3 separate regions of the Homo sapiens genome follow, and regions 2 and 3 are each linked to region 1. The links come from fine-mapping of genetic effects on gene expression. A gene starts in region 1. Each other region holds a variant in brackets. All regions are shown on one strand. Distances are between the middles of the regions. Region 1 holds the start of RPH3A (rabphilin 3A). Region 2 holds the start of OAS1 (2'-5'-oligoadenylate synthetase 1). Region 3 overlaps RPH3A (rabphilin 3A).

Region 1 (4,241 bases):
GACACTAACCACCAGACAACCCTCCTCTTCTGCCTCATATGTCCTGCCTGAGCAGGCACATGCTGTGGGATTTCAGCATCTCTTCTTAGCTATGGGGCTAGAGAAAAAAAGAATGAGTGAACCCTGCTTATATTTCAGGCTTGCCAATCTCTGACTGTTGTTTTATTCCTCCCACCTCCAAGAGCAAGAATCTAAAAAGGAAATCCTTGGGGGTGCAGAACACTGAGGTGGCCCCTGAGATAATAGCAAAAATGCTAAAAACAAGGGCATTCATTTCCAGAAAAGTAGATGTAATCAAAGCAGAAAGCAAAGTGAAATCCCCTTTTGATGGGTAGCAGATTAGCATCAAAAGCATTTCAAAATTAAATGTGAGCTTTTGGATTCAATTTCAAGGTACTTCCACTTCCCACTCACTAACAGGTTGGTGCAGCCTTTCCCCATCAGGATCTTGGAAAAAGAAACTAGTGCAGGGGGACGGTCTACCCTGGAACAAAACTGAAGCTGAAGCCTGGAATCTTTCCCCAGAATTTGAACAAGCTTTGTTCCCCTCCTTCCTTCTGAGATGAACTCAAGGATAGAATCTCCCAAGCTAGTGCCAGGACGCTCCCCCATACAATCACTTACAGGTTACGCCACCTGTGAAAATAAAACATCATCTCCTCTGCAGGCAGTGGCTGCTCCCTTCTGGCCAGCCTGACCACTCATCCCAGGCATAGTGTGGCCCTTTCCTGGCTCCCAGGTCTTCCATCTCAGGAAAGCGTGAACAGCCAACCTCGCAAAAATCACCACAATTAAATTACTCAGCTGTTCCTAGAAGAGGGTACAATCTAAGCTCTGTCCTGTGCAAATCTTACCCAGTGTGCCCAGGCAAAAGTTACCCTTCCAGTCTCAGGTGACCCCCTCCCCTCCAGGGATAAGCACTCACTTGCTAAGTCAGAGTACCCAGAGTCCCTCCATGCTAGACTAGCCAGCCCCACGAAGGGTTAACTCTCTCAGAGAACTGCCGGCTACTTTCACCAGCTTCTGCTGCAAAGGAGAGGGCAAATTGGGCAGAAGCCACAATCTTGATCGCATTGCCTACAACATGAGCACATTTTACCCCCTCCCTGGGCACTAAGCCAAAATCTCATTTGGCTTTGGGATGCCGCTTAGGTGATAAAACACTGCAGGATGTAGGCAAATAAGCATAGTCGTTCCTCGATACCCTTCTCCTCCCAACTACCCTTTACCCCACCAGCTCATGAACACACATCACAATTGGGATTCCAACACCCCTAGCCCATCTGCACAACCCGGGAGAATATCACTTACCGCGACGCTGGAGGCTTGCAGGGGGAATGGGTGAGCCAAATTCTTGCCAACTCCTCCCTTCCCTGCCGGGTAGAAAGACGCTAAGTCCCAATGACTTGGTTTAAAAGCTCAGCGGAGGTGCCTGAAAGAAAATTGTTCATTTGACTCTCCTACTCTTCCCAAAATAAAATCAAAGCACCAGTGCACACACGTAGACACACAGACACATCAACTACCCCTAAATCATGCAGGACCAAGACAAAAAGAAATACCACTGCCAGAAGCGGAGAAAACTCGGACCAGCCAGTGAGTCAGTGGACAAGGGACAGTGGCTCCCTCAGACTGTCCTCCACATGGATGAAGGTTTTAGCTCTGTGAGTCTCTCTCTCTCTCTCTCTCTCTCTCTCTCTCTCTCTCCCTTCTCCCTTCCTTTCCAGTCCGCGTAGGCAACTCCGGGCTGCTGGCAGTAGACGAATCAATTGCTTCCCCAGAGCCAGTTTCTGCCGCGGCTGCCACCACTACTGCAAAGCCCTGTGTGAGCAAGGGAAGCGGGGCGGCAGCTTCCCAGTGCAGGGGGAACCAAGCGGGAACCAAGCCTGCCTCCCACCCGTGATTTATGTGTGCGGTGCCTGGAGAAAGAAAGGTGGGAGGCCGGGAGGGGAGGTTGGGCGCACCAGAGATCCCAGCTGGTCGAAACGGCAACCAGGGGATTGGCGGTCAGCACCACGGACAGCGCTAAGATGCCTTGGAGGAGGGGATGGGTGGGAAGCGAACCCCTAGGCAGAGAAGTTAAGTAATTGGATGGTTAAAGCAGAGAAGGGGGGAGTCCGGAGGGGTGGGGGACGGGACTTCTCGACATCACACAGTCTAGTCAGTGACAGCTTACCTACCACACACTTTTTCTAATACTGTCGCTCACTCTCAGAGCAAAGGAACTATAACTTCACAGCCCCTGTCTCCCACACGCCCCCAGTCCTGCATTGCTCCTCTCTGCTCAGACAAGAGCTTGGCACCGGTGTGGGGGGCTCCCTAAGTGGTTTTGCCCCTCAAAGTTTCGCCCAGATGACCTGTCCTCACCCCCATTGCTGCAGATTTTTGACCTGTACCTGGAGTTTCTCAGAATTCAGAGCAGAAAAGCTGAGGCTTAAGAAATGGAAATTTCTAAGGGGCAGGGTGGCTTAGTTGAATAAGCACTTGATGGTTTTCTGGAAGTCAGATCCAGCCCCCTTACAACTCTGGAAAAGTCATTTAATGTTTCCAAGTCCCATCTGTGAAAATGATAACATAATGACCTTATTTTTCCTAAAGATAGGAAGCAAGAGGTTAAAATGCAACAATAAGAATACCCAAGCTGTGAACTGCCATGATTTCATGGTCCATAACCTGTCCTAAAACACAAATGTTTGGACAGAGTGATAAAGGAATTGACAGCCCAGCTAGGATGGCATGTGCCAACCTCACCCTTCAGCAGGTGGTTTGAGTAGAATGAAGGGAAATTTTAGGTCTAAATCAGACCATTGAGCCTTGGCCAAAGAGCCTTCCCCGAAAGATCCAGACTGGCTTTCTGAAGTGAATTCACTATATGGACAATGAAATAAAAGTATCAAAAGGGGAAATATATAAAGATGAATGGATTCCCATGGCTCCCAGTGCTCCATATCTCAAGAGTCCTATTCCTCCTAACTTTGGGAAAGGGCTCAAATTGGAAAAAGGCCAGGAAATCTCAAACAGACCAAGATCTGCTTAGAACTTCTCTGCAAAGTGAAGGAGAACTCTCTCTATTGGAGACTCATATCTAAAGCTTCCCATCCAGATGGCCCAGGGTTAACTACTACATTTGTCACTTACTTCTCCCCATGAGACCCAGGAGTTAAAATGAGAACATTTAGAGCTCATTTAAAAAACAATTTTTTAAAGACAGTGTCTCTGCCAGGCGCGGTGGCTCATGCCTGTAATCCCAGCACTTTGGGAGGCCGAGGCAGGTGGATTACCTAAGGTCAGGAGTTCGAGATCAGCCTGGCCAACATGGTGAAACCCCATCTCTACTAAAAATACAAAAAAATAGCTGGGCATGGTGGTGTGCACCTGTAATCCCAGCTACTCGGGAGGTGGAGGCAGGAGAATCACATGAACCTGGAAGGCAGAGGCTGCAGTGAGCCGAGGTTGCACCATTACACTCCAACCTGGGCAACGAGAGTGAAACTCCATCTCAAAAAAAAAAAGAAAAAGACAGTGTCTCACTCTGTCACCCAAGCTGGAGCGCAGTGGTGCAATCATAGCTCACTGAAACCTTGAACTCCTGGGCTTAAGTGATCCTCCCACCCCAGCCTGTCCAGTAGCTAGGACTCAAGGTGCACACGAATATACCCTGCTAATTTTTTTTTTTTTTTTTTTTTTGCAGAGATGGGTCTCACTATATTGCCCCAGCTGGTCTTGAACTCCTCGCCTCAAATGAACCACCTGCCTCAGTGGTGGTGGTGGTGGTGGTGGTAGTAATTGTCATCATGATGGTAATCATAGTGATGATTATAGTGATGGTGTTGATTGACAATGATTATGCTGATGATGTTGATGGTGATGATTATGGTGGTGGTGGTGGTGGTGGCAATGATGGCTGCTATTGAAAACCTACTATGTGCCAGCTCTTCTGCTAGGAACTTTACATGTATCATCTTCTGAAGTCCTCACCATGACCCTTTCAGGACACTAGTATTATTCCCATCTTGCAAATGAGAAAACTTAGACTCAAGAAATAAAATTCCTTGCTCAAGGCTTCACAGTAAGTTACAGACACAGCATTCAAACTCAGTGTCGTATGATTCCAAAGAACATGCTCCAGGATGTCTCTCAGAGTTCATTTCAAATGCATTCTACAAGTTTGAGGGGAAAATTTTCATCGAATATTTTCTGGGATGATCCTGTGACATAAATTCAGTGTCCTCAATTTACAG
Region 2 (4,241 bases), 120 kb before region 1:
CACTGTGACCAGCCTTCTCCCTCTTGTCTTTTACAACCATTGTACTTCAGCCCCCAACACAGGAGATGGCACAAAGGAGAGAATCCAAAACTTTCTCATACCCTGGTGTCTTTGGAGAGTCAGCATTTTTTTTTTCATGGCTGCCCTAGGACTAAAGGAAACTGTGACAGTTCCTTTAATTAAGTCCTAATTACTTGATAATTAATCACTAATTACTGCTTAATGACCAACTATTAATTAGTAGCCACTAATCAGTAAGTTCAGTTTAATAGTAGCCGTTTGTGCGGTGTGTGACAGATGTCATCGCATTTCCCTCAAAAAATTAAAATCTAAACTATTCCGTGTCCCTCTGTGAGTTCACTGTGGTGTTTTGAGGTGCCTTCATATACAGCTGGGAAATTCATAGTTTTGACTGATTGACTGATTGATTGAGACAGGGTCTTGCTCTTGCTCTGTGCCTAGGATGGAGTGCAGTGGTACATTCGTGGCTCACTGACACCTCGAATCCTTGGCTGGCCTCATGTGATCGTTCAGTCTCAGCGTCCTGAATAACTGCGACCACAGGCATGTACCACCACACTTGGCTAATGTTTTAAAATTTTTAGTAGAGATGAGGTTTCACTTTGCTGCCCAGGCTGGTCTTGAACTCCTGGGCTCAAGCGACCCTCCTGCCTCAGCCTCCAAAAGTGTTGGAATTACAAGCATGAGCCACCACACTTGGCTGGAAGTTCCTATTTTTGAACACCTATTACTCATCAGAGCTGAATGTAGATGATCATTTATCACTTAAAATAATGATATGATACAGGTAGTGTGGTTTTACCAATTCTCCTGATGTGGCAAGGGAGCCTCTGAGAGGTTACACTTCCTGTCCAAATGTTCCTGCAAATTATAAATATCTATCTCCCAACGTGCTGCATACGTTTGATGAGATCTCATGTTGGGACAAAGATGAGAGTAACATGAACTTTAAGCCACATCTTTGCTGCCTGATTTTAGAAAGATAAAATTCACACATTTTGCCTTAAACAGAACCAGTAAGCCTTGCAGATGTTCTGTAAGAAATGTCTTTGTCCCCACATTATGCCAATTTGCTGTTTAATGTCTCTCCTGTGATAGATCATGACCGTATTCATTCTTGCCCCGGGACAGATCCTAAGATCTCCTCCCACCCTGCTTTAGAGAGATGCCCTGTTGGGGCAAAAAGCTCTCAAACTGTGGGAGATTTCTGCTCAGAAATGGGAAGAGGGAGAAAAAGAAGCTGGGAGCTCTCACCCAGGGCATCAAAGGCAGGCAGCACATCGAACTCCACCCCCTCCCCGAGCTGGAGCGAACTCAGTACGAAGCTGAGCGCACGGGGGTTGCCCCAGCGTGGAGCCTGGACCTCAAACTTCACGGAAAATGCTCTCTCTCTTTGACAGGCTTCCAGCTGTCTCCTAATTTCCTGGATGAACTCTCCCCGGCGATTTAACTGATCCTGAAAAGTGGTGAGAGGACTGAGGAAGACAACCAGGTCAGCGTCAGATCGGCCTCTGAGGGTGGTGCCCTTGCCTGAGGAGCCACCCTGAAAAAGACGACAAAAATAATAATTGATGCTTAGTGAGGCAAACCTCCCTAAATAAAATGACAGGAGCAATCACTAACATTATGGAGCACTAGCCACTGTTCTGAAGGCATTGCATGTCTTAAACTCCTATAATGCTCACAATGATGCTATGATTTGGATGCCATTATCATTAGTTCCCATTTTACAGATGGGAAAATGGATGCTCAGTGAGATAATATATCAGCCCCATCACCCAGCTAGTAGGTGGCAAATACAATTCAAACCTGGGGGCCTTCTTCCAGGATCTGTGTTCTTTTCCCATTGTCCTTTACGATGCCCAGGACTAGCTTATGCTGGGTGGTTCACACTTACTATTTTACTTAATCTACACGGCCCTATGAGGTATTGAGGGAAAGTAGAGGAAAAATCAGTTAGGTAAATGGTCAAGGCTGGGCCCTGGAGGAGCGGCCTGCCTGAAACTGGCGCAGGGAGTGGGACTTACCTAAAACAAATCCACAGTTATACATACAAGAGAAGCAGCGCTTTATGCTTGCCTAGAGATATACCCACAGCTGCATAAGGTAAGGGAAGTTGCACAGCTTTACTGATAAAAAGTTTCTCAAACAGTTACAGGGAGGAGAGTGGTTTCTTATAAAAGTTTTTTGCATTCAGCTGCAATCTGGCAATCCACTCAGACTTCCCTCTCCACAGTGGAGACAGCTTTCTTCTTTTGCTTACTGAACTTTTGCTCCAAGCTCACGTTTGTGTCCATGTTCCTTAATTTTCTTGGATGCAGGACAAAGAACCTTGGGTACTAATTCAGTGAGAAGCTGCTACATTAAGGTGCACTGGCAAGACTGCAACAGTATTGGGGATTATGGCTGAGGAAATTGGAACACAGAGTAGTTAAGTGACTTGCTCAAGGTCTTGCAGCCAGCAGGTGCTATTTGCTTTCAAAACATATGATTCTTCACTGCAGAAATGGTGAGCCCCTAGCCTGGCCACGAATTAGCAAACTGTTTACCAGAGCTGGGATTCAGTTCCCTATTTCTGAAATGGGCATCGCCCAGGACAGTGGTTCATAAACTTCAGCGGGAAGTAG[G/C]GGGGAGGGTCACTTGTTAATAATAGGGATGTAGGATTTCACCCCAGAATCTATTTTAACATGCTGTGTGGATAAATAAGAAACCACCATCCCAGAAGATCTCAGCTCTCTGTACTCACATTTGCACCCTGGGTTCTAGGTTTTTGCTTCTCTCTCTCTCTCTCTCTCATTCTCAATCTCAACTCTTGCACATTCAGCCACCCCTCCCCTGGCCAGGCAGGCCTGGACTCACCTTTACCACCTTGGACACACACACAGGGTAGGAGCTACCTCGGAAGCACCTTTCCTTCAGGAACCCACAGATGATGTCAATGGCATGGTTGATTTGCATGCGGAAACACGTGTCTGGCAAGAGATAGTCTTCAATGAACTTGTCCAGAGATTTGGCTGGGGTATTTCTGAGATCCATCATTGACAGGAGAGAGAGTGGCAACAGAACTGCCTCCCAGACCTGTTTGCTTTTATCTCTTCTGCTGACTGAGCTTGGACTGCTGTTGGTTTCGTTTCCTCAGAAGGGAGGAGCTGTCTTTGCACTTTCCTTTTGCAAATCAGACACTCCCCTGATCCCAGTGCTGAATTTCATCTGCTCACTCTTCTGCTTCCTGAAACTTACCCTTTGTCCTTTAGCCAGCAACAAGCAGCCCAGCCTTTCTCTGAACTCTGCTCTGGAAATGCATTTTAACCTCCAGCCAACATAAATCTTATTTAACAGATTTTGTGTTTCCTTCTTTATCTTTTTTTTGTTGTTGATGAAATCCTTTCACAGTTGTCTGTGGTATTTTCCAGCAATACATGCCCACTGCAAAAAGAAAAAAAGTCAGAAAAACCAGGAAGTGGAAAGATCATCTATGATTCTAACACTACAAAATTGCCTCTATAAACGTTTTGATATAGAGCTTTCCAGATTTTTTTCAAATGTTAACACACACACAAACACAGGTCTCTTTTCTTTTTGTTAAGAATGGTATTATACTATGCTTTTTTCCCTTTCAATTAGTAGATTTTTATTTTATTTTATTATTTTTTGGAGACAGGATCTTGCTTTGTTATCCAGGCTGGAGTGCAGGGGCATGATCATGACTCGTGCAACCTCAACTTCCTGGGTTCAAGGGATCCTCCTGCCCCAGCCTCCTGAATACCTGGGACTACAGGCATGCGTTACTGCACCCAGCTCATTTTTTATTTTTTGTAGAGACAAGGTCTTGCTATGTTGCCCAGGTTGGATTTTATTTCTCACAGCAGTTTTAGGCTTACAGAAATATTGAGCTGAATGTGCAGAGAGTTCCATAAGCTCTCTCTCCTGCCAATAAGTTCCTCTATTATTAACAGTACTGTGATACATTTGTTACAATTGATGAATTGATATTAATACATCATAATTAACAAAAGTCCATTTACATTAAGGTTTACATTAAGGTTCACTCTTGTGTCCTACAGTTCTATGGATTTTGCCAAACATAACATGTCATGTATCCACCATTACAGCACCATGCAGAATAGTTTTGAGATAGGAGGTGGGGCTTGACTCAGGGCCAGATTGAAGACTGGCTGGCATGAGCACCAGCACCATGAACAGTTTACTCATTCCCTGGC
Region 3 (4,241 bases), 98 kb before region 1:
TCCCCTGATAAACCCCTTGTCTGCTTAATCCTATTTTGGCATCTTCTTCTCAGAGGATCTGGACTAACACAGATAACAGAGTCCCTTTTATTCTCCATGATGAGATTGCTGGAACAGACCCCAGACTGAAGGCATGTTTTTTTTCTGAGCATTTCCAGAATGAATCTGGAAAATGCCAGATGGCCTCTTTGGTGGTGGAGGTCTGAGCGGTCCGAGGGGTGTGCGGCCAACTCCTGGGAGTACAAATGGGGCTACTATAACTAATTAGCTTAGTTGCAGAGCCATCAGCAGGCCCTCAAGAGGACAGAGCCACAGAGCTTTGCCTGTGGGCAAGTGACACACCAGTTTGACTGCCTGAGACTCCAGACCCACATTCTTGCCAGTTGTAGGCATTTGTTTCACTGTGACCTTGGGCAGGTTCCTTGCCCTCTCTGGGTCTCAGTGTACAACGATCTTGGTGAAACTGTCTGGTTCTCCTTTTCCAAGGCTCCAGGACTCCTTCAGGGCCCACCTGTAGCCCCAAGGCATTGACTTACAGCTTGACGAATGGGTCTGAGTAGCCATTAGCGTCCATGGCAGCCAGGTGCACGCAGCGTATGATGCCCACAATGAGGCCTCCCTGCTGTGTGCTGTACATGAGGGAGACCAGGATCTTGCCACGCTCCTCGATGTCACCAACACGCTCCACCTGCTGCATTGGGGGAAAAGGCAGTGTGGGCCTTGGAGGGGAGGGGGCCAGGAAATGTGAATGGCGAGCATTAGGGAAGAACCTATGAAGGGCAGGCGAAGCTTGGCCAGCTCTAGGGAGCCAGTACCAGGGACAGCAGATGGCTTAGCCTCCAAAGAGGAGCCAAAGGTGAAAGTTGAGGACCAGTCTCAGGCACATGGGGACCAATGGCTTCCCTTTGACTTAGACATAAACAGACTCTGACTGTGAGCACAGACTAAACTTGCTCCGGGTCACTGATTGGCTTTGGCTCTAACCCAGGACTGAGCCTTGACCCTGGCCCCAGACAGATTCTTGCCTCTGATCTCAGACTCCCTTAACACAACCAGTATTCTTAAAGGGCAGTCCTTGGGGTCATATGAGGGACCCAGGCAGACAGCATGAAGGCTTAGTTCAGTTTCTGCCATGCACACAGCTCAAAGAATGCATCTACTCCAAGAAAGGAGTGTGCCATTGCCCTAGTCAGTAGAATTGTCAACAAAGCTTCTGACAACAAGGCCAAAAACCTGGTGGGCATCCTGGGTATGAGAGAAAGGGGCTTCCCCCTCCTCAGAGGCTTAGGTGTGGAGAGGACATCACTTGTGGGCAAAGGGTTGTTCTCAAGGCAAATCAACAGGGGGGTGGTTGGAAGAGAATGGATGAGGAAGGGGCCAGGGAGGGAGAGAAGAGGAAGATGCTAGCCTAGCCCAGTACAGACCCTGACTGTGGCTTCAATTCCTGCTCAGTGCTCACCTCTTCCTCATAAAGGGCCATGCCTCGGGCTGACCCGGTGGTCCCAGCACGTTTCATCTTAAAAGAAGAAAACAAATAAAAGATAACATTGTCTATGGAGCTCATCTTCCTGCGCAAGAAGGACCAGAAACCCCTCATACTTCCATTACCATCCAGAGCCATGAAAGTGGGTTCTTAAGCTACTGTGGCTCTCCTGCATTCTCCCTTTTAGCTAAAATTTATAAAACTTAGCCATATGGCAAGCTATGTGAATGTGTAACAACCTATGATATAGGTTCTGTTACAATTCCAATTTTACAAATGAGGATGCTGAGGGTCCGAGTAGTTAAGCCCCTTACCCAAGGTCACACAGCCAATAAGTGTCAGAGCATTCCACACACAAACAGACAAGATTTCATTTTCTCTGGTTGAAGTGGCTCAGGGGTCTTGGGGTCTGACCCACCAGGTGCTTTTGCCTTCATGGCCCCTGGGGCCCTTTTGCTGAACTCTAGGCTCTGGGAAACAGAGTTAGAAAACCATTGGTTAAATCCAACCTCCCCACTTTGGAGAGGAGGAAACCTGAGGTCCAGAGGGGAGGGGCCCTCAGTGGGACATAATGGGGGAAGTTCGTGGTGCAAGGGTTAAGGTTTAATGGCAAAGAGCAAAAGAAGATGATCAGTAGTGTTCTGCGGCTGCTGCAGCCCTCTGGGTGTCCTGCACCTCCATGTCTCTGGGGCTGGCTGCATTCACCATAGCAAGATGGGAAGACCCAAAGGCTGATGACACAGGCAAGGGCCTGGCCATTGTCCTGGCCAACTGGACTCACGGAGTTGGAGAAGGAAGAGAAGCCTGAAGACCCAGCTGTCACCAGGCAAAAGCCCAGAAGAA[G/A]GGCCTCATTCCTAGGGATGTCTTTAAGGATTTATTCTGAGCCTGGAATTCAGTGGAAATCCTTCCTTGAAATTTTCCTTGTTTGGTCTTGTTCCTTTGCCTGAACTATAAAACTATGGCATGGCATGCAGACATTCCATCCTCAGGCTGGCCATCTGGTGGGAAGATGCTCCTGCACCCCATAGCTTCCCTGTGGAGAGCAGGCAGGCTGCCCAGAGAGACCAGGGGTGCTGGTGTTGTAGGAGAGCTGGACTCTGGCCAGTGCCCAGAGACCTTGGAGACTTGCTACCCTTTCTGGGCCCAAGTTGGCCCATACGTAAGGCAAGGCAGCCTGAATTATCTCTAAAAATATAGATTGTTGAGTCCTACCCTACCCCACTAAAACAGAATCTCCAGGGGAGACCCCCACAAATCTTAGCTTGTAAAGCTCTGGTTTTAGAATCCCCCGGTTAATTCTGAGGTGCAACCCCATTGCAGAACCTCACTTTGATCCTTGCTATTTTCTCAAAGAGCAAGAATCACATCTGACAACAACAATGACAGTTCTAATACTTCATATGTATTATCACATTCAATCCTTAAAAGATCCTATGAGGTTAGTACTACAGTATCCCATTTTACAGATGAGACATCTGAGGCCCAGAGAAATTAAATAATTTGCCTCAGGTTATACCCTAAGTGGCAGAGCCAGGATTCACACCCGAGAGTCTGGCTGCAGAGCCCATACTCTTAAACTCTAGGCTATGCTGTCTGCTGTTTATCTACATGGTGCTTTCTGACTTCATGACTGACAGGTGGGTAAGGCAGCAATATTTCCTACACTAACAACTGTTAATTTATGAGTGCTTACTATGCATTAAGTTCTATTTTGATTATGTTATTTTTTAAAACACAACCCTCCCAAGAGGCAGGTACTGTTATAACACCCACATTACAGACAAGAACACCGAGGCTCGGAGTGGTTCAGCCCCTTGGCCAAGGCCATGGAGCAGCAAGTGGCAGAGCTGGCTCTGAACCCAGGAAGCCCATGCTGCCCCTGCCATGCTGTCCATCCAGTTTGGCCAAGAAGAACTCATGTTCGAAGTGATGCTGACACAGGGTTTGTGAAAGGCAGAGAGAGAATGCAGCCTGAGGTTGTGAGCTGGAATCTTGACTCTCCTCTGCAGACCTGCTGCAGTGCCTCTGCTACCCAATACCCCGTGGATCTATTTCCCCCAATTCAGACCCAGAGGAAGGCAGCTCCCCCAATCTCCCCTCCTCCCATCAGATCCTCAGGGTAAAGTCACTCACAGGAATCACTCGCTCCAGGCAGATGTTGAAATTCTTCCTCTGGTTGGGCTTCAGTTTCTTGAGGGAGAATCTGGTCTCACCAATAAATTCATTGTGGCCAAATTTGTCCTCATCACAGACGGAGATCCTGCCACCAACACAAGGGGGTAGAGAGAGAAACAGGAACAAATATTAAGACACCACTGTGTGCCAAGAGTTGCAGCTGATACTGGTAAGGAATGTGTAATGTATGTGGAAATAATATGATTTCCTGTTTATTTATCACTGGACCAAGTACCTTTAACTTCTTCTTTATTGCAGTATAACTGACATGCAGTAAAGCACATAAATTTAGTTTATAGCTTGATGAACCCTTGCATTTGTATATACCCATGTAATTCCCACCCAGGTCAAGATATAAAACATTCCAGAGACTGAAAGATCCTCAGGATCCTTTCTAGTCACTGCCTGTCTCAAAGATAGCCACTCTTTTGCCTCTGGCCACATGAAGTCATTTGTCTGGTTTTTGACCTTCATATAAATGGAATCATATAATATAGACTCTTTTATGTTGGCTTCTCTTGCTCAAGATTATGTCTGTGAGATGCATCCATGCACAGTATAACTTATCCTTTTTATTGCTGCA

Evidence for each region. PIP is the estimated chance that this variant, and not a neighbour inherited with it, causes the effect.
Region 2: its variant is fine-mapped to the expression of RPH3A in whole blood (TOPMed, PIP 0.97).
Region 3: its variant is fine-mapped to the expression of RPH3A in whole blood (INTERVAL, PIP above 0.99).

What each region holds. Positions count from the first base shown.
Region 1 is chr12:112,789,334-112,793,574 of GRCh38, reverse strand. It overlaps RPH3A (rabphilin 3A), which reads right to left and starts at 1,827. Exons shown (of 22, transcript NM_001143854.2): 1 at 1,563-1,827; 2 at 1,312-1,432. RefSeq lists an enhancer at 1,194-1,735.
Region 2 is chr12:112,905,859-112,910,099 of GRCh38, reverse strand. It overlaps OAS1 (2'-5'-oligoadenylate synthetase 1), which reads right to left and starts at 3,138. Exons shown (of 6, transcript NM_016816.4): 1 at 2,881-3,138; 2 at 1,276-1,564. The coding sequence starts at 3,060. RefSeq lists an enhancer at 2,858-3,297. The variant G/C (reference allele first, on the strand shown) is at 2,649.
Region 3 is chr12:112,887,299-112,891,539 of GRCh38, reverse strand. It overlaps RPH3A (rabphilin 3A), which reads right to left. Exons shown (of 22, transcript NM_001143854.2): 17 at 3,617-3,743; 18 at 1,460-1,516; 19 at 537-691. Among named protein-coding and RNA genes, the nearest start is that of OAS1, 18 kb to the left of the region's middle. The variant G/A (reference allele first, on the strand shown) is at 2,327.